3 separate regions of the Homo sapiens genome follow, and regions 2 and 3 are each linked to region 1. Evidence: fine-mapped expression QTL. A gene starts in region 1. Each other region holds a variant in brackets. All regions are shown on one strand. Distances are between the middles of the regions. Region 1 holds the start of HDHD5 (haloacid dehalogenase like hydrolase domain containing 5). Region 2 holds the start of TMEM121B (transmembrane protein 121B). Region 3 overlaps ADA2 (adenosine deaminase 2).

What was found. PIP is the estimated chance that this variant, and not a neighbour inherited with it, causes the effect.
Region 2: its variant is fine-mapped to the expression of HDHD5 in whole blood (TOPMed, PIP above 0.99).
Region 3: its variant is fine-mapped to the expression of HDHD5 in whole blood (TOPMed, PIP 0.93).

What each region holds. Positions count from the first base shown.
Region 1 is chr22:17,154,897-17,163,071 of GRCh38, forward strand. HDHD5 (haloacid dehalogenase like hydrolase domain containing 5) reads right to left here and starts at 4,381. Exons shown (of 8, transcript NM_033070.3): 1 at 4,230-4,381. The coding sequence starts at 4,355. HDHD5-AS1 (HDHD5 antisense RNA 1) reads left to right here and starts at 4,493. Exons shown (of 2, transcript NR_024483.1): 1 at 4,493-4,941. RefSeq lists a silencer at 4,063-4,392.
Region 2 is chr22:17,119,523-17,127,697 of GRCh38, forward strand. It overlaps TMEM121B (transmembrane protein 121B), which reads right to left and starts at 1,838. Exons shown (of 1, transcript NM_031890.4): 1 at 1-1,838. The coding sequence starts at 1,605. It overlaps LINC01664 (long intergenic non-protein coding RNA 1664), which reads left to right and starts at 2,073. Exons shown (of 4, transcript NR_103793.1): 1 at 2,073-2,517; 2 at 5,133-5,249. RefSeq lists a silencer at 1,550-1,679 and an enhancer at 2,265-2,796. The variant A/G (reference allele first, on the strand shown) is at 3,065.
Region 3 is chr22:17,184,672-17,192,846 of GRCh38, forward strand. ADA2 (adenosine deaminase 2) reads right to left here. Exons shown (of 10, transcript NM_001282225.2): 5 at 7,012-7,139; 6 at 5,271-5,361; 7 at 3,668-3,776. Among named protein-coding and RNA genes, the nearest start is that of HDHD5-AS1, 29 kb to the left of the region's middle. RefSeq lists enhancers at 3,274-3,775, 3,776-4,275, 5,164-5,664. The variant C/T (reference allele first, on the strand shown) is at 4,695.

The DNA.
Region 1 (8,175 bases):
TTACAGGTGTGAGCCATGGCACCCAGCCAGAATGTCCTTATTTTTCTTAGAGGTACACACAGAAGAATTTAGGTTTGAAATGACAAGAAATCAGAGATTTACTTTAAAATCTTAGAGCCACAAAAAAAGGAGGAGGGAGATAAGCAAAGCAGGTGTTGAAAAATGTTAATCATTGCTCAATCTGGGAGATGGGCACAGGGGTTCATATTATTCCCCATTTTTGAATTTTTGAAAACTTACATAGTTAAAAAACAGCTCATTTGTACAATGGTTGCAAAATTTACCATACATAGTTTTAACGGTCATTGCCTAAACAGTCACAAGATTTGCTTTCCTTTTTTTTTTTTTTTTGTTTGGTTGGTTTTTTTTGAGACGGAGTCTCACTGTCACCCAGGCTGGAGTGCAGTGGTGCAATCTCGACTCACTACAACCTCTGCCTCCTGGGTTCAAGTGATTCTCCTGCCTCAGCCTCCCAAGTAGCTGGGACTACAGACGCGCGCCAACACACCTGGCTTATTTTTTATATTTTTAGTAGAGACGGGGTTTCACCATATTGGCCAGGCTGGTCTCAAACTCCTGACCTCGTGATCCGCCCGTCGCGGCCTCCCAAAGTGCTGGGATTACAGGCATGACCCACCGCGCCCGGCCCAAGATCTGCTTTCTTAAAAATAAGAATCCATAGCCCCTGCTACTTAGAACAGCAAAGTTTTCAGGAAAATTGAGCAATATCCATAAGGCTCCCTCACCCATCACTCCAACCCCTCCCCAACCTTCAGGATGTACACAGAGAACCAGGCACCCAGTACCATAAAAAGTGAAGGTGTACATCAATTATAACAAATGTACCACACTAATGCAAGATGGTAATACAGTCACGCACCATAACGATGTTTCAGTCAATGACACACTGCATATACAATGGTCCCTTAAGATTATAATGGAACAGGAACTCATAGCTGAAGAAGAGGCAAGAGAAAAGGTAGCCACAGAAAGAAAAGAACATCCAAGAAAATTCACAGTGAAGGGTTCAGCAGCTTTTACAGACCTCAAGTTCCTTAAAAAGTCTGAAACATGAACTCCAACGCCAAAAGGTTTTCATTACTAGAGAAGAATGTTTATGGTACATTATCTGTTTACAAGCAAACCTATGACAAAAAAAAAGAAACCAAGCAAACCACAATGGACATATTTCTGATAAGAGTGACACCTCAAGAGCCTCAGAGAGGTCCTTCAGAAGATATCCAGAAGAAAGCACTGTTATCGCAGATGACAGTTCCATGCATATGACTGCCCCCTAAAGACCTTCTAATGGGACATGGTGTGAAGGCAGAAGACAGTGATATCAATTACCTGACCCGACCTTATGTAGGCCTGGGCTAGTAGGTGTTTGTGTCTTCATTTTTAACAAAAGTTAAAAAAAAAAATTTTTTTTAAGGTAGGGCACTGTGGCTCACGCCTGTAATCCCAGCACTCTGGGAGGCCAAGGCGGGCGTATCATGAGGTCAGGAGTTCGAGACCAGTCTGGCCAACATGGTGAAACCCCATCTCTACCAAAGATACAAAAAATTAGCCGGGCGTGGTGGTGCACACCTGTAATTTTTTTTAATAGAAAAAAGCTGCCTGTAATCCCAGCATGTTGCAAGGCCAAGGAGGGCAGATCACGAGGTTAGGAGATCGAGACCATCTTGGCTAACACAGTGAAACCCCATCTCTACTAAAAATCCAAAAAATTAGCCAGGCGTGGTGGCAGGCACCTATACTCCCAGTTACTCCGGAGGCTGAGGCAGGAGAATGATGTGAACCCAGGAGGCAGAGCTTGCAGTGAGCCGAGACCACGCCACTCCACTCCAGCCTGGGCAACAGAGCGAGCGAGACTCCGTCTCAAAAAAAAAAAAAAAGCTGGCTGGGCACGGTGGCTCATGCTTCTAATCCCAATACTTTGGGAAACCAAGGCAGGCGGATCATGAGGTCAGGAGTTCGAGACCAGCCTGGCCAACACAGTGAAACCCCGTCTCTACTAAAAATACAAAAATTAGCTGGGCGTGGTGGCAGGCGCCTGTAATCCCACGTACTTGGGAGGCTGAGGCAGGCGAATCACTTGAACCTGGGAGGCAGAGGTTGCAGTGGACCGAGATGGCGCCACTGCACTCCAGCCCGGGCAACAGAGCTAGACACCGTCTCACACACATACACACACACACACACACACACACACACAAAAGAAAAAAGCTATGGAACAATGATATAAATGAAGATATATTTAGTACAGCTGTACAATGTGTTGTGTTTTAAACTAAGTGCTATTACAAAAGAGTAAAAAATTTTAAAAATTAAAAACTTGGTAAAGCAAGAAAGTTAAACTAAGGTTAATTTTCTTTTTTTTTTTTTTTGATAAGAGTCAGGATCTGTTGCCCGGGCTGGAGTGCAATGGCCCGATCTCCGCTCACCGCAACCTCCCTCCCAGGTTCAAGGGCTTCTCCTGCCTCAGCCTCCCGAGTAGCTGGGATTACAAGTAATAGATCCATTACATAGATGGGGAAACTGAGCTTGGAAAGCTATGTAAATTGCCTTAAGTGAAGCCGCTAACAGACTGCACAGGATTCAATTCTAAAGCTCGTGCTCAAACTCTGTCATCCTGCATTCTTCTTTTTCTGCTCTACCGGAAGAGTCACTTGGAGACATTTCGGGACTCTGCAGAGATGCTAGAGCCAATACAACAGTTATAAATAAGGGCGATATTTCCTTATATTTATATCCTGACAGTTTGTAAGTCCTTTTATCAACATATTCTAATTTCAAACTTCCACCTTGGTCACGTCTAGCTATGTGACACTGGCCAAGTCACTCAGCTGCTTTGAACCTTAGCTGCTCCATATTTAAAAATCATAAAAATAATACAGCTGTTAAGAGCTTAGACTCTGGCACCAGACTACCTGAGTTCCAGATTCTGCCACTTACCAGCTGTGTGCCCTTGGGTAAGCTGCTTAACCTCTCTGTGCCTCTGCTCCATCTATAAAATGGGAAGACTAATAATAGTACTTTCCTCGGAGTTGTTATAAAGATTATACGAATAACTGTGAAGTACTTAGAATAGTGCCTGGCACAAAGTAAGCACTATGTGTTTTTTTCATGCAAGTAATTTGGCCGGGTGCACTGGCTCATGCCTGTAATCTCACCACTCTGGGAGGCCAAGATGTGAGGATCATCTGAGGTCAAAAGTTCGAGACCAGCCTGGCCAACATGGTGAAACCCTGTCTCTACTAAAAATACAAAAATTAGCCGGATGTGGTGGCGGGTGCCTGTAATCCCAGCTACTCGGGAGGCTGAGACAGAAGAATCGCTTGAACCCGGGAGGCGGAGGTTGCAGTGAGCAGAGATTGCGCCACTGCACTCCAACCTGGTGACAGAGATGCCGTCTAAAAAAAAAAAATGCAAGGATTACTGTGAAATCCGTATGTTAATGTAAAATATTACTTGTGCGTTTAGAAGACAAAGTGATTCCTTTTTCCAGAAAAGGCAAAACGGCCCAAGGGAGCGTGAGAGCCGTGGATCTGACCAACCTGGTTTAGTGTCCTGTGCCGTCTCCCAGCTGCAGGACCTGAGAAAACGTACTTGAAAACTCGTCAAGCTTCGGCTTCCTGACCACACAAGGTCACACCTTCTCAGAAGTTGCGGGGAGGCTCACACATCACTACCGCGCCGGGCACACAGCAGGCGCCGGCTCCAGCCCTCCTGCTCCCGCCCGCGGAGCCTCCAGCGCTCAGTCGAGGTCACAGCGAGCTGAACTGAACCCAAGGCCCGCACCAAACCCACAGGCACTTGGGGGCGGAGCACCCGCAGGCGCGGCTCCCGGCGCGCGGCCCAGTTTCCTCCACATGCAGATGAAAATCACGACCCAAACGTCCTCATGGTGGAAATCAGAAGACGCGCAGGGAAAACAGGGACGCGGAAACTGCCGGGAAGCGCAGGGGCTGACAAGCAGCCTGGCCCAGGCCGTCCCACGAGCGCTCTCCCGCGGGAGTAGCGTTTCCGAGGCCGCCAGCGAGTCAGAGGAAGGCAGGGCGCATCCGCCCTCCAGCAAGAACGCGATGCACTCGGGCGCGACGACGGTCCAGGCAGTTCCCAGGAGGCTGGGATACCAGCCCGGCCGCCCCTCCTTCCCCGCGGCTCCCCGCCCCGCCTCCGGCCCTGAGTGGCGAGTGGCTCGGCCAGAACCCGGACGTCCTCACCTGAGCGGGGCCCACAGCATAGCACCTGCGGGCGGGGCGGCCCTGGAGCCCCGCAGCCGCGCGCGCCGCCCGCCAGCAAAGCCCACGCGCCGCGCCGAGCGCAGCCACACAGCCCCACGCAGCCATCCGGCCGTCGCCGTGCGCACGTGCACGGCGTGCGGCCCCCCCCCCCCGCGAGTCCGTCCGCTGCACAGCCAATCAGCGGTCGGCGCGCGCGGCATCACGGGAGTTGTAGTCCTGTAAGCGCGCGGAGCCCGTCGGGCGCCTATGGAACTCGACCCGCAGGCCAAAGGGGCTCCGTTGCAAGGAAGAAGTGCGGGGTCCCGCCGCCTCCTAGACCGAGATCGCGGTGAGCTGGCCGCGGCGCACAATGGGCACGGCCTGGGCGGCGGCGTCCGTACTATCGCCCTGTGCCTGCGGATCCCGGTAACATTGCGCGGCAGGCCCCAGGCCGGCCTCCCTCAGCTTCGCGGACTGTCTGGGCCGGGGGTCTCAACCTTGACTTCAGGGCCGGGCCGCTGGGGCAGACCCTTAGTGATGTTCAGGTCCTCTGGGCCCCTGCCAGTCAAGGGACGCTCGTCGCGCGCCAATTGTTAAGTCTTTCATTGTTTCTGTAAACCTGCTGACGCCCTCCCAGCGCATAGGGAGACTGCGCACGTGAGTCCGCCCCCGCGCGCACTGCGGAGAGGTAGAGGCACGAATGTAGTACAAGGTACAAAATGACTACTCCAGAGAGGGCCAGATGACTAAGTCAGCAAACACTTAGGGAACACGACTGTGTCCGCTGCGCGTTTCCCGGAGTAGACACAAGGGTGAATGAACAAAGAATGGATTTCGGTCACTGAAAGTGGAGAGGTAGCCGACTCCGTCCGTGGAGGCCCTTAGCAGAGCTGGATCTGGTAGTCCCCCGGTCATGAGGGGAGATTCTGCTGGAGGAAAGAGGTCTCCATTCCCACCGTTTGAAATGTGTAGGATGCCCTCAGATTCTTTGGCCCATTCATAGGTATAGCTATGCTAAAAACGCGGGACCCTACAATGTACTTAGCACTAGCAGAGAGGGAGTCGAGGATATGGACAGAGACTGCACTAGCTCACACATTAGCAGGCCAGGGTGCGGTGGCTCACCCCTGTAATCCCAGAACTTTGGAAGGTCAAGGTGGGAGGAAAACTTGAGTCCAGGAGTTCCAGACCAGCCTGGGCAACATAGGGAGACCCCTTCTCTATTTTAAAAATAATAAAATAGGGCCGGGTGCGGTGGCTCACACCTGTAATCCCAGCACTTTGGGAGACTGAGGCGAGTGGATCAGGAGGTCAGGGGTTCAAGACCACCTAGCCAAGATGGTGAAACCCCGTCTCTGCTGAAAACTGCAAAAATTAGCCAGGCGCGGTGGCAGGCGCCTCAAGTCCCAGCTACTCGGGAGGCTGAGGCAGGAGAATCGCTTGAACCCAGGCAGCAGAAGTTGCAGTGAGCCGAGATTGCGCCAATGCACTCCAGCCTGGGTGACGGAGTGAGACTCCGTCTTGAAAAAAAAAAAAATAATAATAATAATAATAAAATGAAGAAGTAGTTAGCGGTGTCCTTTGGTCCTCAGCTTTGAAGGGCAAGATCTTAATTCAGTTCAACTACAGCTAATCAGAATTTGGAAGACTAATTCAAGTCAGTCAAACTCACAATAGCCCGACACTTAAACCCTGCCAGGGGACATAGCTCTCTAGGATTGCAATGTTCCTAATCCCTTCCTTCTATTAAACTACCTAGAAACTGATTTAGTCATTAGAAATTTCTTGGTATGATGGCTTTTAAACATGCCCACAGTTTTTTTTGACAATCGGCTCCTCAAAAGCATAGCCAGGCGCGGTGGCTCACACCTGTAATCCCAGCACTTTGGGAGGCCAAGTCAGGCGGATCATCTGAGATCAGGAGTTCAAGACCAGCCTGGCCAACATGGCGAAACCCGTCTCTACTAAAAATACAAAAATTAGCTCGTCATGCACCTGTAATCCCAGCTACTTGGGAAGCTGAGGCAGGAGAATCGCTTGAACCTGGGAGGTGGAGGTTGCAGTGAGCTGAGAGCGTGCCACTGTACTCGAGCCTGGGCAACAGAGTGAGACTCTATCTCAAAAAAAAAAAAAAAAGAAAGAAGAAAAAAAGGCCGGTCACAGTGGCTCATGCCTGTAATCCCAGCACTTTGGGAGGCCGAGGTAGGTGGATCATCTGAGGTCAGGAGTTCGTGACCAGCCTGGCCAACATGGTGAAACTCTGTCTCTACTAAAAATACAAAAATTAGCCAGGCATGGTGGTGTGTGCCTGTAATCCCAGCTACTTGGGAGGCTGAGGCAGGAGAATCACTTGAACCTGGGAAGCAGAGGTTGCAGAGAGCTGAGCTGAGATTGAGCCACTGCACTCCAGCCTGAGCGACAGAGCGGAACTATGTCTCCAAAAAAAAAAAAAGCTGGAGTTGGGTGGGTATGGTGGTTCATGCCTGTAATCCCAACACTTGGGAAGCCGAGGCAGGTGGATCACTTGAGTCCAGGAATGCCAGACCAGCCTGGGCAACGTGACAAAACCTTGTCTCCACAAAATATATATATAAAAAAAAAATTAGCCAGGCATAGTGACACACACCTGTAGTCCCAGCTATTCTAGGAGGCTAAGGTGGGAGGATCGCTTGAGCTCAGGAGGCAGAGGTTGCAGTGAGCCAAGATTGTGCCACTACAGCCTGAGCAACAGAGTGAGACTCTGTCTCAAAAAAAAAAAAAGAAAAAAAAAAAACCTGGAGTCTAATTCTAATTCCCCTCCCATTGAGTGTGGGCTGGACTTCACTGACTTTTTAATAAATAACATGGGACAGAAGTGAGTGTAGTTGATTTCCAAGGCTAGGTCATAAAAGATACTGTGACTTCCACCTTGCCCTCATTTAGATAACTCATTCTAGGAAAGCTAGACGCATAGTAGAGTTGTCATGTGGTGAGGCCATTCAAGCAGCCCTATAGAAAGGCCCACATGGTGAGGATCTGAGGCATCCTACCAGTAGTCAGGAGAGAGAATCTTCTTGGAGGTGGAGCTTCCATTCCTGGCGGAACCCTTGACCAAAACCTCATGAACCACCCTGAGGCAAAACCACCCAGCTAAGTCACTCCTGAATTCCTAACCCTCAGAAACAGGGAGATACTGAAGGTTTGTTGTTTTAAGTCATTACACTTTGGGATAATTCGTTATACAGCAAAAGATAACTAATATTCTTGGTGATCAGGACTGTGTCATACTTAGTGTTATTAATCTTCAGGAGTTTCAGCCTAAGTCAGCAGTGTTCCCCACATGGGCCTGCCTTGCTTTCATTCTTCCTCCATTGTGGACTGAATGCCATAAGACCATTCCAGCCCATCCAAAGCAGGAACCAGAAATGGGCTGGGTTTTGCTGTTGTTTTAGTTGGTTTGGTTTGTTTGTCTGTTTGTTTCGGGGAAAGATGACAGAAGGTGCACTGTGGGAGATTCCAACATGATTATTGAATCAAAGACTGTGTGTGTACGTGATAAGTCTTTATTAGATTCTCTGGGTTCATAAGCCAGTAAAAGGTAAGAACCATCCTCTAAGGAGAAATCTCACAGCTAAGGCTTGCCATGTTAAAGAGTTTGCACTTCCAGGAACAAGGGCACTCACGTCTACCCTGTGCTATTCTAGGTGTCTTCCCATCCTGCCGGATGCACGGAGCACATATTCTGCCACCCCTAGCTCTATCCTTTGGGCAGTGCTGAATAAACACTAACAAACTCAGGCTCTGTGGCTGACATTGTAAGCAGAACCCCTGCCCTGCTGTTGCTTAACGCATCTTTATTTTGATTCCCAGTCATGTTACGACACAATCACATTAAGATGTTCTTTCGTATTCAGGTTCAGAATATTTGCTCTGCTCACTTGATTGAATTTGGAGACTTCCCAAATCT
Region 2 (8,175 bases), 35 kb before region 1:
ACCGTAGCCCCCTCTGGCCCGACTCGGGGAGGCCCGATTGCCCCGGTCCCAGCAGCCCTCCAGGGCCTCCAGGCCCCGGCAGCCGAGGAAGAAGAGGTTCTTGAGCATGAAGATGGAGAGGGGCTGCTGGTAGCTGACCACCAGGAGGCAGCGCAGCGCCAGCAAGGGCACGTCCACCAGGCAGCCGCCCAGCAGGCGCAGAAGGCGGCTGCAGCTGCCAGGCCCGGAGGCCTGGCCCCAGGATGCAGCCGCTGCGGCCGCGGCGTTGAGCTCGTAGAGCCAGAGCACCGGCGAGGCGAGGGTGAGGAAGTAGACGGCGATAAGCAGGTAGCGCAGGTGCGCGGGCAGCGGCACGCGGCCCTCCAGCATCAGCTCCACCAGCGTGAAGCTGTCGAGCAGGTCCAAGCACGTGCCCAGGAAGCATCCGGCCGCGCGGTGCCGCTGGGGCTGCAGCAGCAGGGGTCCTGCCGATCCCGGGGGCGCGCCCGCCTCGCTGATGGCCCGCACCAAGCTGTAGAGCAGGGGCACCGACAGCGCCATGGTGAGACGGAAGCCCGTGGTGCCGAAGGGCGCGCGTAGCTCGATGAGGTCTAGGATGGACGTGCCCAGGATCAGCACCACCTTGGGAGTGAAGGCGATGGAGTAGATAAGCCAGGCCAGGTAGGCGAAGGCGAACTCGCCCGCTGCCGCGGCCGCCCCCAGGCCGCCCCCCGCGCCGCCGGCGCCCCCGCGGGCTCCGCGTGCCTTGGCCCCAGCGGTAGCGGCCGAGGGGGCGGGCAGATGCAGGGGCGGCGCGGCGTGGTGGTGGTGCAGGTGGTGGTTGTGCGCGCCGCTGGCTGCGCCGCCCCGACGGCCCCGGCTGTTCTTGGCGAAGAAGATGGCCCAGCCCACCACCACCACCAGGTCAGTGGCGATCCAGGAGCACCAGTACAGGTCGGTGACGGCGATGAGGTACAGGTCCAGCAGGCCGCCCTGCGCCAGCAGCAGCACCACGGACAGCGCCTGGTAGCCCCAGCGGCACCTGGGACTGGGGGCGCAGCCGCGGCGCCGACCTCTGCGGCCGGGGCGGTCTGGGCAGCCGCAGCAGCAGCAACACGGGCAGCAGGAGGCGCCGCTGCCGGTCCCGGTGCCGCCCGCGCCCCCCGCCGAGCGGCTCCCGGGGCCCCCGACGGCCCCGGCCGCGGCGCCCCCGCCGAAGTCCGCGGCTGTCATGCTGCAGGAGGAGGTGGGCGTGGAGGTGGAGGAGGAGGTGGCCGCTGAGGAGGAGAAGGCGACAGGCGCGGGGCCGGCGGGGGCGCCCACCTGAGCCGGCGGCCCCAGGAGCGCGGCGTTGGGCACCAGCGGCTTGCTGACGCTGAGGCTCTCGTCGTCGTCCTCGCGCTCGGCGCCCGTGCTGCTGCTCGGGGAGCCGCCGCCCCCGCCGCGTCTGCCGCCGCCTCCCCCGCGGCTGGTGCTGGTGCTGGTGCTGCTGTCGCCGGAGCCTCTCCGGCCGCGGAAGGAGCCCCCGCGGAGGAAGAGGGGCTGCAGCCGGGCGGCTGCCGGGGGCGGCGGGAAGGAACCGGACGCGGAGGAGACCGAGCGAGGGTGGCCGAGCGCCGGGCGCATTGTCCTCCGAGGGGCTCTGGGGCCGCCCAGCTGTTCCCTCCCCGCCAACCCCGGGCGGGCGAGGCGGGCTAGGCGGCCGAGGGGAGCCGGGGCCCGCCGCCTCCCCAGCAGTGGGGACTCGCACCTGGGCCGGGCGGCGGCGAGATCCGGACTGGAGCCACTGGACTGGGCGAGCCGGGCCGGGCGGCAGGGAGAGGGGGCAGGCGGTGAACCGAGCGGACCGCGGTGAAGACAGGCGAGGCGGGGGCGGGGCGGGGCGGGGCGGGGAGCGAGTCCCGCCGGGAGGGAGGGAGGCTGGCGGCGGGGAAACCAGGACTGGATTCGAGGGGGAGAGGAAGCAGCGAGACCAGAGGAGGAGAAAGCGCGGCGCGCTGGATCAACGGGAAGAGAAGGGGCGGGGGTGCAGTGCGTCACAGTCGGGTCGGGAGCCCTGTGGCCTGGAGGAAGCGGGAGGAGGCGCGGGCAGCCGCCAGGGCGAGGCGACCCGGTGCGGGGGGACTCCCATGGAGCGCGGACTCCTAAGGAAGTCGCTGGGAATCCCACCGGCTGTACCGCAGGGCGTTAGTACCTAGATGGCTTCGGTGCCCCCAAGCGATGGGCTCAAGCTACAGGGCGGGCTTTGCACCTGGCCTTCTCAGCTCTGAGGCAGGCAGTGGGCAGCTTCGCCTCCACCCTCCGTCCAGCGCCCTTCCCATGGGGCCATCCGCCTCTCCCTAAGGCACTAAAAACCAGTGGAGGAGTCAGGCCATGTTGGCAAAAAGGGCTCGGGCAGCAGCCCCAGACCTATAGTCCTAAATATCCATGTACCCAGCCCTGGGGTCGCGAGCCATCTCAGGGACGACCCGATTCCAGCGGATGGAGAAGTTCCCTGAAAACACCTGCCTGGGAGGAGAGACGAGGGAACGAGATTGGGCAAGTGGCATCCGCCCAGCGGGCTTCTCAAAGGTTTTTAAAGCAGAATGGGACGTAATAGGAAGATGTGTCTAGCAGAGAGTAAAATAAAGGGGCATTTAGAGGTGTGGGCACCTGGATGAAAACAAAGGCTCCAAAGGGATGATGGTGAGGGTTACAGCCCACCACAGTAGACAGAGACACCAAGGAAGGAATGCAGTCAGTGGCCCTGCGTAGACAGTCTCAGGAGAGAGCACACCAGCTCACCCCAGGACTCATCCAAGGCTGGGGATGGATGTCGATGCAGCAACTCTGGAAGGCAGAAGGTAGAGTGCTGCCTTTAGGGGTTTAAGGGAGAAGGAAATGACTAGAGCAGTTGGGGCTCAAAAACAATCTGAGGTTCACCAATAATGGAAACATCCCATTCCCAGCCCCATGAAAACAAGGCAGAAAGCTTGCCTGCCCTATTGGCCTCTGCACCCTTGTGGGGCCTGTGGGCTCCCTGATTTCATGACCTTTGAAGCTGCTGCTGCGGGCTCATCTCCCCTAGGTAACAGCTTGCAGCGTG[A/G]TAACACCATGCAGTGTGAGGGAGCTGTATGCAGTGGAGCCGCAGGGGTTAGTCAGGCCTCGCCCCTAAATCTGCCTCTTAAATAAGAGTCCGTTTCAGCCAAACCTGCCTTTTCCAGTTCCGTGGAGGTCAGTCTGCACAGCCAATCCCTGGTAAATATACAATTTAGAACCTGCACCATCTCCACCTCCCCCACACACACCACTTTTGGAAAGCTGGCATGGTGGTGAGGGCAGGAGCTCTGGGGCCGCCATCCCACCTGTGCCACTTAACACCTTTGTGGTCTTAGCCTGAATATTTCACCTCAGAATGTTGATCTGTAAACAGGACCCCACCCCAGCCGGGCGCGGTGGCTCACGCCTGTAATCCCAGCACTTTGGGAGGCCGAGGCGGGCGGATCACCTGAGGTCGGGAGTTTGAGACCAGCCTGACCAACATGGAGAAACCCCATCTCCACTAAAAGTACAAAACTAGCCGGGCATGGTGATAATCCCAGCAATTTGGGAGGCAGAGGCGGGCAGATCACCTGAGGTCAGGAGTTTGAGACCAGCCTGGCCAACACAGTGAAACTCCGCCTCTACTAATAATACGAAAATTAGCCAGGGGTGGTGGCACGCACCTGTAATCCCAGCTACTCGGGAGGCTGAGGCAGGAGAATCGCTTGAACCCGGGAGGCAGAGGTTGCAGTGAGCCAAGATTGTGCCATTGCACTCCTGCCTGGGCAACAAGAATAAAACTCCATCTCAAAAAAAAAAAAAAAAGGACCTCACTCCTACCTTAAGGGATTGTTGTGAGTATGAAGAGAGATCATGTGTGTAATCTCTCTTCGATGACAGAGCCAGTCCCTGGCTCAGAGTCCATGCTCAGTTAAAGGTCTCTGTGTTATCATCATTCCATTAGCCCATGCCTTAGCCTCCCAGGGAACATCGACTCATAGCAGGGGCCACCAATGGCTGTTTTCTGCCTGGACTCTTGAGTTCTGCTCCCCAGTAGCGTTGCACTTTGGTAAGTGCCCAGGAACAAAGCTGCCATGGTTAGGAGCACTGATTCTTGGAGCCGGTCTTCTCAGGCTCACAGTGTGAGACATTCAGGGTGCCAGTTGGGGCCAGGGTCCACCCATGTGGGGCAGGGTGAGGTCAGGAGTTCAAGACCAGCCTGATCAATATGGTGTTTCACCAATACTCCGTCTGGGGGGAAAGCAAACAAACAAACACTTCAGTCCTACCTGAGGTGCCCAAAAATAAACAAACAAACAAAAAACCTGGCCGGGCACATTTGAGATCAGCCTGGGCAAGATAGCAAGACCTCATCTCTAAAAATAATTTTTTTTTTCAAGACAGAATCTTGCTCTATCCCCCAGGCTGTAGTGCAGTGGTGCGATCTCGGCTCACTGCAACCTCCGCCTCCCGGGTTCAAGCGATTCTCATGCCTCAGCCTCCCAAGTAGCTGGGAATACAGGCGCCCGCCACCACACCTGGCTCATTTTTGTATTTTTAGTAGAGACAGGGTTTCTCCATGTTGGTCAGGCTGGTCCCGAACTCCCGACCTCAGGTGATCTGCACGCCTCAGCCTCCCAAAGTGCTGGGATTACAGGCATGAGCCACCACACCTGGCCATAAAAATAATTTTTTTTTTAAGTAGCCAGACGTGGTGGCATGTGCCTGTGACTCCTAGCCACCCAGGAGGCTAAAGTGGGAGGGTCATTTGAGGCCAGGAGTTCGAAGTTACAATGAGCTATGATCATGCCACTGTACTCCAGCTTGGGTGACAGAGCAAGACCCTGTCTCAAAGAAAAGAAAAGAAACCTTTAGATTTCAAGTATATAGTAGTCCTCCCTTTATCCATGAGGGATTCATTCCAAGACCTCCAGTGGATGCCTGAAACTGAAGATATACATATACTATGTTTATTTTCCTATACATACCTATGATAAAGTTTAATTTATAAATTAGGTACCATAAGAGATTAAGAATAGTAACTAATAATAGAACAATTATAACAATATATTATAATAAAAGTGTATGTGAATGTGGTGCCTCTCTATCTCAAAATATCTTAATATTTTCAGACAGTGCTTTACCATGGAACTGAAACCATGAAAAGTGAAACTGCAAATGGGAGAGACTGCTGTATAGTCACTGAAAAATTAATGGATGAGCTCAACAGCAAATTAGACACAACTGAAGTGAGTAAATTTAACAATATATATGAAGACATTCTCTAGAATGTAGTACAGAGAGCTAGAGACTGAAAATATCTAGGAGACAAGAGACATGAGAGATAGATTGGAATATCCAAAATATGTCTAACAGAAGCTCCAGAAGGAGAATATAAAACAATAAGGGAAGGACAATACAGAAATTTGAACTGAGAATTTTCCAAAATTGGTGAAAGAACTTCTCCAACCCACAGATTTAGGAATTGCAATGAATCCTAAACAGGATGAATAAAAATAAACATGCTCCGAGATGTTTTCAAGTAAAATTGTAGAACTCTAGACAAGAAAAAGATCTTAAGAGAAATCAAACAGTAAAAAAAAAATTACTTACAACAAACAACAATTAGATTAATGGCAGACTTCTCATCAGAAATAACAGAAGTCAGAATGCAGTGGATGGTAGAAATAAAGCTAAATAATCAGTAATCACAATAGATGTCATATTAAACGACACATGATCAGATGGATTTTTTTTAAATGTCCAGTTATAGGCTTTTATAAGAAATATCCCATGGCCTGGCATGGTGGTTCACGCCTGTAATCCTAGCACTTTGGGAGACTGAGGCAGAAGGAACCCTCAAGCCCAGACTGGGCAACAAAATGAGATGCCATTTCTACCAAAAAAAAAAAAAACCATTTTTTTTTTTGAGGGACGCAGGTTTTGTTTTTGTTTTTGTTTTTTTTAATGGAGTTTCACTCTCGTTGCCCAGGCTGGAGGGCAATGGTGAGATCTCAGCTCACCACAACCTCCTCCTCCCAGGTTCAAGCGATTCTTCTGCCTCAGCCTCCCGAGTAGCTGGGATTACAGGCATGCGCCAACACACCCAGCTAATTTTGTAATTTTAGTAGAGACGGGGTTTCTCCATGTTGGTCAGGCTGATCTCGAACTCCTGACCTCAGGTGATCCTCCCACCTCGGCCTCCCAAAGTGCTGGGATTACAGGCGTGAGCCACCATGCCCGGCCTTCAAAAAATCGTTTTTAATTAGCCAGGTGTAGTGATACATGCCTGTAGTCCCAGCTAGTCAGAAGGCTGAAGTGGGAGGATCCCTTGAGCCCAGGAGTTGGAGGTTGCAGTGAGCTATGATCACGCCATTGCACCCCAGCCTGGGTGACAGAGCAAGACCCTGTCTCAAAAATAAATAAATAAAAGAAAAAGAGAAACATCCCTAAAATATAAAGACAAACAAAGTAAAAAAGGGCTGAAGAAAAAATACACAAATATAATTTAATGCATGTATATAATTAAACTAGGCAAATATCAACTTTAAAAAGTGGGTTTGGCAATATTAATACCAAAAAAATAAACTATATGACAAAGAATATTCTTAGGGATAAAGAAGTTCACTATGTAATGATAGAAGACAGTACACCATAGTAGTGAAGGGCACATACTCTATAGCCAGACTACCTGGATTCAAACCCTGACTCCACCATTTAGTTTTATTTTATTTTTATTTATTTTTTTTATTTTTTGGAGACGGAGCCTCACTTTGTCACCCAGGCTCGAGTGCAGTGGCACGATCTCGGCTCACTGCAACCTCTTCCTCCCAGGTTCAAGCAATTCTCCTGTCTCAGCCTCCCAAGTAGCTGGGATTATAGGCGCCCGTCACCACACCCAGCTAATTTTTTTTTGTATTTTTAGTAGAGACAGAGTTTCACCATGTTGGCCAGGCTGTTCTTGAACTCCTGACCTCAGGTGATCTGCCCACCTCGGCCTCCCAAAGTGCGGGGATTACAGGCATGAGCCACCGCGCCTGGCTGACTCCACCATTTAGAAGCTGAGTGACCTTAGGCAAATTACTTAATCTCTCTTTCCTTGATTTTCCCACTAGAAAATGGGGAAAATAATAGTACCCACTTCACAGAGTTGTTATGAGGAGTAAATGAATTAATAGATAGAAAGTGCTCAGCACAAAGTGCTATATACATATTTGCTGCTGTAAAAGGACCAAGTTCCAGAAAGACCATAGTTCTGAATGTGTGTGTATTCAATAACATTGCCCTAAAATATATAAATAAAAATGGGTAATATTTATGAGACACTGGCAAATAACCTAATGATAGTAAGAAATATAAACACATCTCTCAGTAATTGATAGTTCACACAGATAAAACATTGGTACAGATGTATACAAGTTGAACCATATCATTAACAAGCTTGATCTAAATGGCTGAATTTAGAGCTCTGTACCTCCAAAACTAGATACTACACATTGTTTACAATTTTACATGCAACATTTACAAAGCCTGACCATGTACAGACCAATCCTTTGACCTCACAACAATTAGATTAGAATAAAATAACAAAACAACGACCAACCACCCCCCACATATTTGGAAGTGTAAAGACATACTTCCAAATGAATCATCCAAAAATTAGAAAATATTTAGAACTAAATGAACATGAAAATACCACCTGTCAAAATGGATGGGACATAGCCAAAGCAGAAGAAGAACATTTATAGCTTTAAATGTTTGTGTTACAAAGGAGAAAATTGAACATTTAATAAGGTAAACATCCAACTTAATAAATTGGCTGAGCACAGTGGCTTGTCATTCCAGCACTTTGGGAGGCTAAGGCAGGAGGGTCACTTGAGGCTAGTAGTTTGAGATCAGCCTGGGTAACATAGCAAGACGTTGTCTCTATAAAAAATTAAAATATTAGCCAGGCATGATGGTACATGCCTGTAGACCCAGCTACTTGGGAGGCTGAGGTGAAGACCTCTTGAGCCCAGCAGTTTGAGGCTACAGTGATCCATGATCACACCACTTCCAGCCTAGGCAACAGAGTGAGATCCTGTCTCAAAATAAGTAAATAAAAGTTGGAGAAAGAAAAGCAAGTACAATGAAAACACAAAGAAGGAAATATGGTTGGGCATGGTGGCTCATTCT
Region 3 (8,175 bases), 30 kb after region 1:
AATCGCAGCACTTTGGGAGGCTGAGGCAGGAGGATTGCTTGAGCCCAGGAGTTCAAGGCCAGCCATGGGCAACATAGAGACACCCTGTCTCTACAAAAAATACAAAAATTAGCCAGGCATGGTGGCATGTGGCTGCAGTCCCAGCTACTTAGGAGGCTGAGGTGGAAGGATAACCTGAACCCAGGAGGTGGAGGCTGTAGTGAGCTGTGATCACGCCACCACACTCTAGCCTGGGTGACAGAGGTGGAGGCTGTAGTGAGCTGTCATCACACCACCGCACTCTAGCCTGGGTGACAGAGTGCCCATGTCAAAATATATATATATATATATATATATGAAAACTCCACTTTCCTGATAGAAATAAAACTCAAGAATTTCCATTGCTATGTAGCACATGTGTTTTGGTGGATTTTCACTGGTTTTTAAAGATTTCTTTTTCTTTTTAAAAATAAGGATATTGGCCGGGTGTGGTGGCTCACACCTGTAATCCCACCACTTTGGGAGGCCGAGGTGGGCGGATCACGAGGTTAGGAGTTCCGGACCAGCATGACCAACATGGTGAAACCCCGTCTCTACTAAAAATACAAAAAATATTAGCCGGGCGTGGTGGCAGGCGCCCGAGTAGTCCCAGCTACTCGGGAGGCTGAGGCAGGAGAATGGCGTGAACCTGGGAGGCGGAGCTTGCAGTGAGTTGAGATCGTGCCACTGCACTCCAGCCTGGGGACAGAGCGAGACTCCGTCTCAAAAAATAAAATAAAATAAAATAAAATAAAATAAAAAAATAAAAATAAGGACATTACTTTTAGGTATTAGATACCCAAGTCCTGGCAAAATCATCTCCAAGGACCATACATCTTGGAACCTGTTAGGTCCTGAGCTGCAATGTTTTGTAGGGCCAGAATTATTTCACACACATAAGTATGATTTTCCCCAACCAGACCACAAGCTCTTCAAGGTTAACAACACCCTCGCCCAACCCCCTCCCCCTCAAACAATTCTTCTGCTCTCCTAGAGCAGACTTTGATCTAAATTGGATCTAAATTGACTCGAAATGTCAGGAAAAAGAGATTAATGCACAAGGTCCCTTTCTCTGAGAGAAGGTGTGATAGAGCAGAGCTTAAGCCTGGGTGGGAAATGAAATTGCCCACCACTCTCTCCACCCCTCTTTGGTCTTCCGAGGGTGACAGGTGGGATGCTGAAGAGAGCTGCCCTCCTGGTCCCGGCCTCCATGTGAACAGCCTCCTCCCAAATCTTCCTTTGGATCTGAAATTGCAGCCGTGATCTTTCTTAGTTAGGGTTTACACATTTTAAGGACTGGAATACGGGAGGGGCTGAGATGACTGAGCGAGCCCAAGGATGGAGTTCTGGGAAAGAAAGATGTGGCTGGGCTGATGGCGTTTCAGGAGGAACAGCAGCCAGGGCCTGCATGGGGCAGGGCAGGGTTTCCTCTCCTACGATAATGCGGGACAGAACATCCTAAAGACAAGGAGCAGACCTGGTTCTCCTCCCTCTTCTGCCAATTTCCAGCTGTGTGGCTTTAGGCAGATCAGTTAACCTCTCAAGCACAATTCACTCGGAGGATGGAGAGCGTCAGAAAGTGTTCCAATTCATACACATTATATACAGGCATCAAAATATCACATGAGGCCGGGTAATCCCAGCACTTTGGGAGGCCAAGGCGGGTGGATTGTTTGAGGTTGGGAGTTCAAGACCAGCCTGGGCCAACATGGTGAAACCCTATCCCTATTAAAAATACAAAAATTAGCCGGGTGTGTTGGTGGGCGCCTGTAATCCCAGCTACTCGGGAGGCTGAGGCACGAGAATCACTTGAACCTGGCAGCCAGAGGTTGCAGTGAGCCGAGATCGCACCACTGCACTCCAGCCTGGGCGATACAGTAAGACTCTGTCTCAAAAGAATTTTTTTCCGTGGCTCAAGCCTGTAATCCCAGCATTTTGGGAGGCTGAGGTGGGTGGATCACTTGAGGTCAGGAGTTCAAGACCAGCCTAACCAACATGGTGAAACCCCATCTCTACTAAAAATACAAAAATTAGCTAGGCATGGTGGTGCATGCCCGTAATCCCAGCTTCTCCAGAGGCTGAGGCAGAAGAATCACTTGAACCCGGGAGGCAGAGGTTGCAGTGAGCCAAGATCGCACCACTGCACTCCAGCCTGGGTGACAGAGTGAGACTCCATCTCAAAAAACAAAAAAATTGACCAGGTGCAGTGGCTCACACCTGTAATCCCAGCACTTTGGGAGGCCTAGACGGGTGGATCACAAGGTCAGGCGATCGAGACCATCCTGGCTAACACAGTGAAACCTCGTCTCTACTAAAAATACAAAAAATTAGCCGGGCGTGGTGGCGGGCACCTGTAGTCCCAGCTACTTGGGAGGCTGAGGCAGGAGAATGGCATGAACCCAGGAAGCCGAGCTTGCAAGTGAGCCGAGATCATACCACTGCACTCCAGCCTGGGCCACAGAGCGAGACTCCATCTCAAAAAAAAAAAAAAAAAATTTGTTTTCCTTTTTGTGTAGAATGGAATCTTACTATGTTGCCCAGACTGGTCTCAAACTCCTGGGCTCAAGTGATCCTCCTGCCTCTGCCTCCCTAAGTGCTAGAATTACAGATGTGAGCCACTGTACCTGGCTAAAACACTTTTTTTTTTGAGACAGGGTCTAGCTCTGTCACCCAGGCTGGAGTTCAGTGAGCCTGGGCTCAGGCAATCCTCCCACCTCAGCCTCTAAGTAGGTGGGACCACAGGTGTGTACCATCATGCCTGGCTAATTTTTGTATTTTTTTGTAGAGACAAAGTTTTGCCATGTTGCCCTGGCTGGCCTCAAACTCCTGGGTTTAAAGAGATCCACCCACATCAGCCTCCAAAGTGCTAGGATTACAGGCATGAGCCACTGTGCCTGTGCCCAGCCTAAAACGAATTTTTATAGCCAAAGTAGGATGATGTGAGTTTGCAGGATTATGCCCCTACCACGAAAAATTAAAAAAAAAAAAAAAAAGAAGAAGAAGAAGGATTCAAATTCAGACTCCACTGCGCACCAGCTCTTTAACCCTGGACCACTGTGTTTGGAGCCTTGGGCTCTTCATCTATCAAATGGAGATTAAAAACTGGGGAAACAATCAGAAATCAATTAGAAAAGGCCAGGCGCAGTGGCTCACCCTTGTAATTCCAGCACTTTGGGAGGCCGAGGAGGGCAGATCATGAGGTCAGGAGATCAAGACCATCCTGGCTAACACGGTGAAACCCCGTCTCTACTAAAAATACAAAAAATTAGCCAGGCGTGGTGGCAGGTGCCTGTAGTACCAGCTACTTGGAAGGCTGAGGCAGGAGACTCTCTTGAACCTGGGAAGCCGAGGTTGCAGTGAGCTGGGCGACAGAGGGAGACTCCGTAAAAAAAAGAAAAAAAAAGAAGAAGAAGAAAAGAAAACAGGAAGGAAAGAAGAAAGAGAAACTAGAAATAATACATGTAAAGTGGCTGATTCTATTATCCTTGTTATTCCTTCTCCATGGGGCTGTTGTCAGGATTAAGTGAGATAGAGCACAGGAAAGGGCTCTGGAAACGCCTGTAGGCTCTAACCCTGAGGCATGGGCCTGTGGCCAGGAGCTCTCCCATTGACCACCTCCGCTGCCTCTGCTCGCATCCCGCAGGCTCACCTGTTTCTCCGGCGTGGAAGAAGTAAGGCAGCTTAACGCCATCCTTGGCGGGGATCATCAGAGCTTCCTTGTAGTCATGCAAGGAGTGGCCAGTGTCCTCATGCCCCACCTGCAGGACAGAGAGGGACAGGGAGGTGTCTGCAGGGCGCATGCCTCACTTGCTGATGGCGCGCCCTGGAGCCTGTGCACACCCTTCCTTGTACCCTGCCACCACTGCCGGGACCTTTGTCACACAGCCTTTTAAGAATGACCAGGAGCAGGCCAGGCGTGGTGGCTCACACCTGTAATCCCAGCACTTTGGGAGGCCGAGGCAGGCAGATCACGAAGTCAGGAGATCGAGACCATCCTGGCTAACACAGTGAAACCCCATCTCTACTAAAAATACAAAAAATTATCCAGGTGTGGTAGCGGGTGCCTGTAGTCCCAGCTACTTGGGAGGCTGAGGCAGGAGAATGGCATGAACCCAGGAGGCAGAACTTGCAGTGAGCTGAGATCACACCAATGCACTACAGCCTGGCCAAGAGCAAAAAATATATATATATATATATTTTGTAAAGACGGGGTCTCACCGATTTGCTCAGGCTGGTCTAGAACTCCTGGACTCAGGTGACCCTCCCACCTTGGCCCCCCAAGGTGCTGGGATTACAGGAGTGAGCCACTGCCCTGGACTAATCTAGATTCTTTTTTTTTTTTTTTTTTGAGATGGAGTCTTGCTCTGTCGCCCAGGCTGGAGTGCAATGGTGCAATCTCAGCTCACTGCAACCTCTGCCTCCTGAGTTCAAGTGATTCTGCCTCAGCCTCCCAAGTAGCTGGGATTACAGGTGCAGGCCACCAAGGCTGGCTAATTTTTGTGTTTTTAGTAGAGATGCGGTTTCTCCATGTTGGCCAGGCTGGTCTTGAACTTCAGACCTCAGGTGATCCACCTGTCTCGCCCTCCCAAAGTGCTGAGGGCATGAGCCACTGCACCCGGCCTAGATTCTTTATGAGATTGCCGAGCTGTCACCTAAGAAATGTCCTGGTTGTGCTT[C/T]GATTTGGTGGGGAGGTGTGGGACAATGACAACACCTATGAATGTGTAGCTTCAAAAACTGGTGTGGCCAGGCATGATGGCTGGAGAGGGAGGGACAAATATCACTACCTTGAGGATTTGCAAAGGCCTGGCTCCATCCTGGACTCTGTTTCCAGACATTACCCCCCAGTCCCCACCCCGCGTGCTACAGGGGCTGGTGAGGGTTTTAAGACCCACACCTAGGTGAGCAGTGTGGGATAGAAAAAAGGGCACAGGCAGGGCCATGGGGAATGAGCCCATAACTGTGGTCCAAACTCCCTGAATGCCATCCTTATTCTGGAACTTTCCTTGTTAGCTTGTTAGAACTGGCTGTCTGCTCTCCCTTCTCCAGTGACAGCCGTCCCCTGTAGGCCTCTGAAGAGGGTCAGCGCTGAGCTCTGAGCAGCCCTGCTGTGTCAGCAGCCTGAGCCTGCCCTGGGATGTCAGGGTACCAACAGGCACATTGCGCTCCCTTCCCAGGGAGTTGCCGCTCCACCCAGACAGGCATCCTCGCATGCCCCCTTAACAGGCAGCCCTTCTGTTCACAGCATGGGTTACCAGGTCAAACCCTGCCACCACCGTGGGGAACTTGATTCGGAGCCCCATGGCCATTCGGATGGATTCTGCGATGACAGCCACATCTTTGGATCTGTGAGACAGACAGAGAAGCCAGGAGACAGTGCCCAGCACCGACAGAGCACAAACCCCAGAGCACACCCTCCGTGCAGGGCTGGGCCAGCCCCAAGTGTGCAGGTCCCGTTTCCCAAACCTGAGGCACCCCTGCCCTCCTGACCCCACCCTGACCAGGCCATTGTGATCCCTGAGAGATATGTAGCCCAAATCCATTCTTATCAAAGACCCTTGCTGGCTCTGGGGGCACCTGTAGTCTCTGAAAAGTAGATGGGGTCAGAGGACCCACGGGAACAGTTTTATTTGTCTGCGTTTAGAGGAGGCCAGGTGGCCTTGTTCCCAGCTCTCCCTGCATCTCTGTCGGGGGTGTAGACATGGATGCAGCTCAGGGGCAGCTCTCTGTCCACTGCACACCTGCAAAGGGCCACAGGTCACCCAAGTCCCTGATGGGTCGGCTGGACCCAGTAACCATATGGCCTCTTGCTGATTAAGTCAGCAAGATCCTGGGTACTGCAGAACCCTACAGGGGCAAGGCAGGCAGCATGACAACAAAAGCCCCAAAACACAGGGTCTGGCGCAAGCCCACGACAGGCTCAAGGTCTTTGCCCTGCCACTGGCTCTCCTGCTCCAATCCTCGGCTCTGTGGGGATAAAGCCTTCCTGGCCTGCCCCACCCATGGCCTCTCCCCAGAGCCTAGGCAAACCTGGGGGCACTGATGCACTCAGCTCAGCCCTCACACCCTCCTGCCACTGGCCCTGGGAAGGGGCACCTGGCACCAGGGAGCCTCTGAGCAGAACGTGGGCCCATCCTGCAAGCTCCCTCCTAGGGGGACCGGCACAAAGCCAGAGCTTAGCTCCTCCAGGCCCCAGGCCCCATGGAAGGGAAGGGGACTCAGGAAGACTGGGCATGGGAGGAGGCTCCTGGGGAGTCAGTGCCCTCCAGAGCCCAGGCTCGTGGGTGAGCTGAGCAGAGGGAGCCGCTGCCGGATCCCTTCGGTGCCCGCCCCGTGCCTGACTCCGAGGGACCCCACTGGCTGCTGCCCTTGCAGCTGCGACCATGGACAGGTCCCAGCCTTAGACTGGCTGCTCTTTAAAGTGAGGGGAGGGGTCTTGTCTGGTAAAGTCAGAAGGACAATTAAGCTGCAAAGCTTTCTGTGCTTCCCTGGGAAAAAGAGTGGGTCTTTCACCCACGTGCCAGGCCACGCACATGGTACTACTGGAGGTCCCCACACGCAGACTTGAGCCAGTGCCACTCAGGGTGTCTCCGTGATCAAGGACTCACACACAACCACACACAGAACCCAGAGGCAAATTGAAACCAAAAACGGGCCAATTATCCAAACATTCAGGCAAAACCATTATGCTCATAAATGAGTCACCAGGCCAATGTGGGGTCACAGCCGAGAATTATCTGGGAAATTCACACATTCTTCATTTCAGTTTGGGGGTGAAGACCTGAACTAGAAGTGGCTTCAGGCAGCAATTCATTGTTGGGTCACCGCACTTACCTAGGACTGTGCTCTCACACAGGCACAGCACAGCTCCTTGGCACCAGTGCTGGGCCTCTCCCGGCCTCCCAGCCCCGCTTCTCACCCCTCCCCTCCCAGCCTAGTAGCTCTGCCTGCATCCCAGCCTCCCAACCCGAGCTTTTCAGCAATATTCTCTCTCACCTGTGATCCGAATAAATGATTTTGATTCCAATAAACTCAGGGTGAGTTTCCACAAACTTCTGAGCTACTTCCTGGTAAGTCTTCACTGACCACTCTTCGTCATGGTGCTCTCCACTGAGCTCATACACCTGGGAAGAAAGCACAACCAGGAGCCGTCAGGTGAGCAGTGAGAGACGCCACCCCCTTCCCAGCCACCCCTGCCCAGCCACCCCTGGCCAGCCACCCCTGCCCAACCACCCCCTTCCCAGCCACCCCTTCCCAGCCACCCTTGCCCAGCCACCCCTGCCCAGCCACCCTTGCCCAGCCACCTCCTTCCCAGTCAACTCCTTCCCAGCCATCAACGAGCTCTGGGAAAAGTAGATGGGGTCAGGGGACCCACAAAACAGTTTTATTTGTGTTTGGATTAGGCCAAGTGGCCTTGTTCCCAAAAGTCCAGCCAGGCTGGACTTGTGCTTCCCTTGTTCAGGTCCTCTACGGCCTTGGGCATTGTCTCTGCTGCTGCATGGGGAATTCCTAGCTGGCTCTGGGATAACCCTGATGCTGATGCCCACCTGTCTCCTTCATTGCTGGGTCACTGCACTTAAAACAGCACATGGCACACGCGAGGGTAGGTGCCCATTAAGCATCTGCATAATGGTTGAAGAGCAGGTCACGGGGGGAGAGGATGAAAGCTAGAAAGAGTGATCTGAGAATGACGTCATTCCCCACTACCTGCTCACCTCCCCACTGCTTCCCTAACTCCAGGTGCAGCAGCTGCAAGGCGGCCACTGCCACCAGGGACAGCAAGGGGGACACAGTGAGAGCAGAGTGGGGAGAGTTGGGAGTGGGCAGGTGACAAGGAAGCTAAGGGAAGGGAGGTGTGTAATGGGGAAAGGTGGCTCACACCTGTAATCATAGCACTTTGGGAGGCCGAGGCAGGGGGATCACTTGAGGTCAGGAGTTCAAGACCAGCCTGGCCAACATGGTGAAACCCCCATCTCTACCAAAAATACAAGATTAGCTGGGCATGGTGGCACATGCCTGTTAATCTCAGCTACTGGGGAGGCTGAGGCAGGAGAATCGCTTGAACCCGGGAGGCAGAGGTTGCAGTGAGCCAAGATCATACCACTGCACTCCAGCCTGGGCGACAAAGCAAGACTCTGTCTCGAAAAAAAAAAAGGGGGG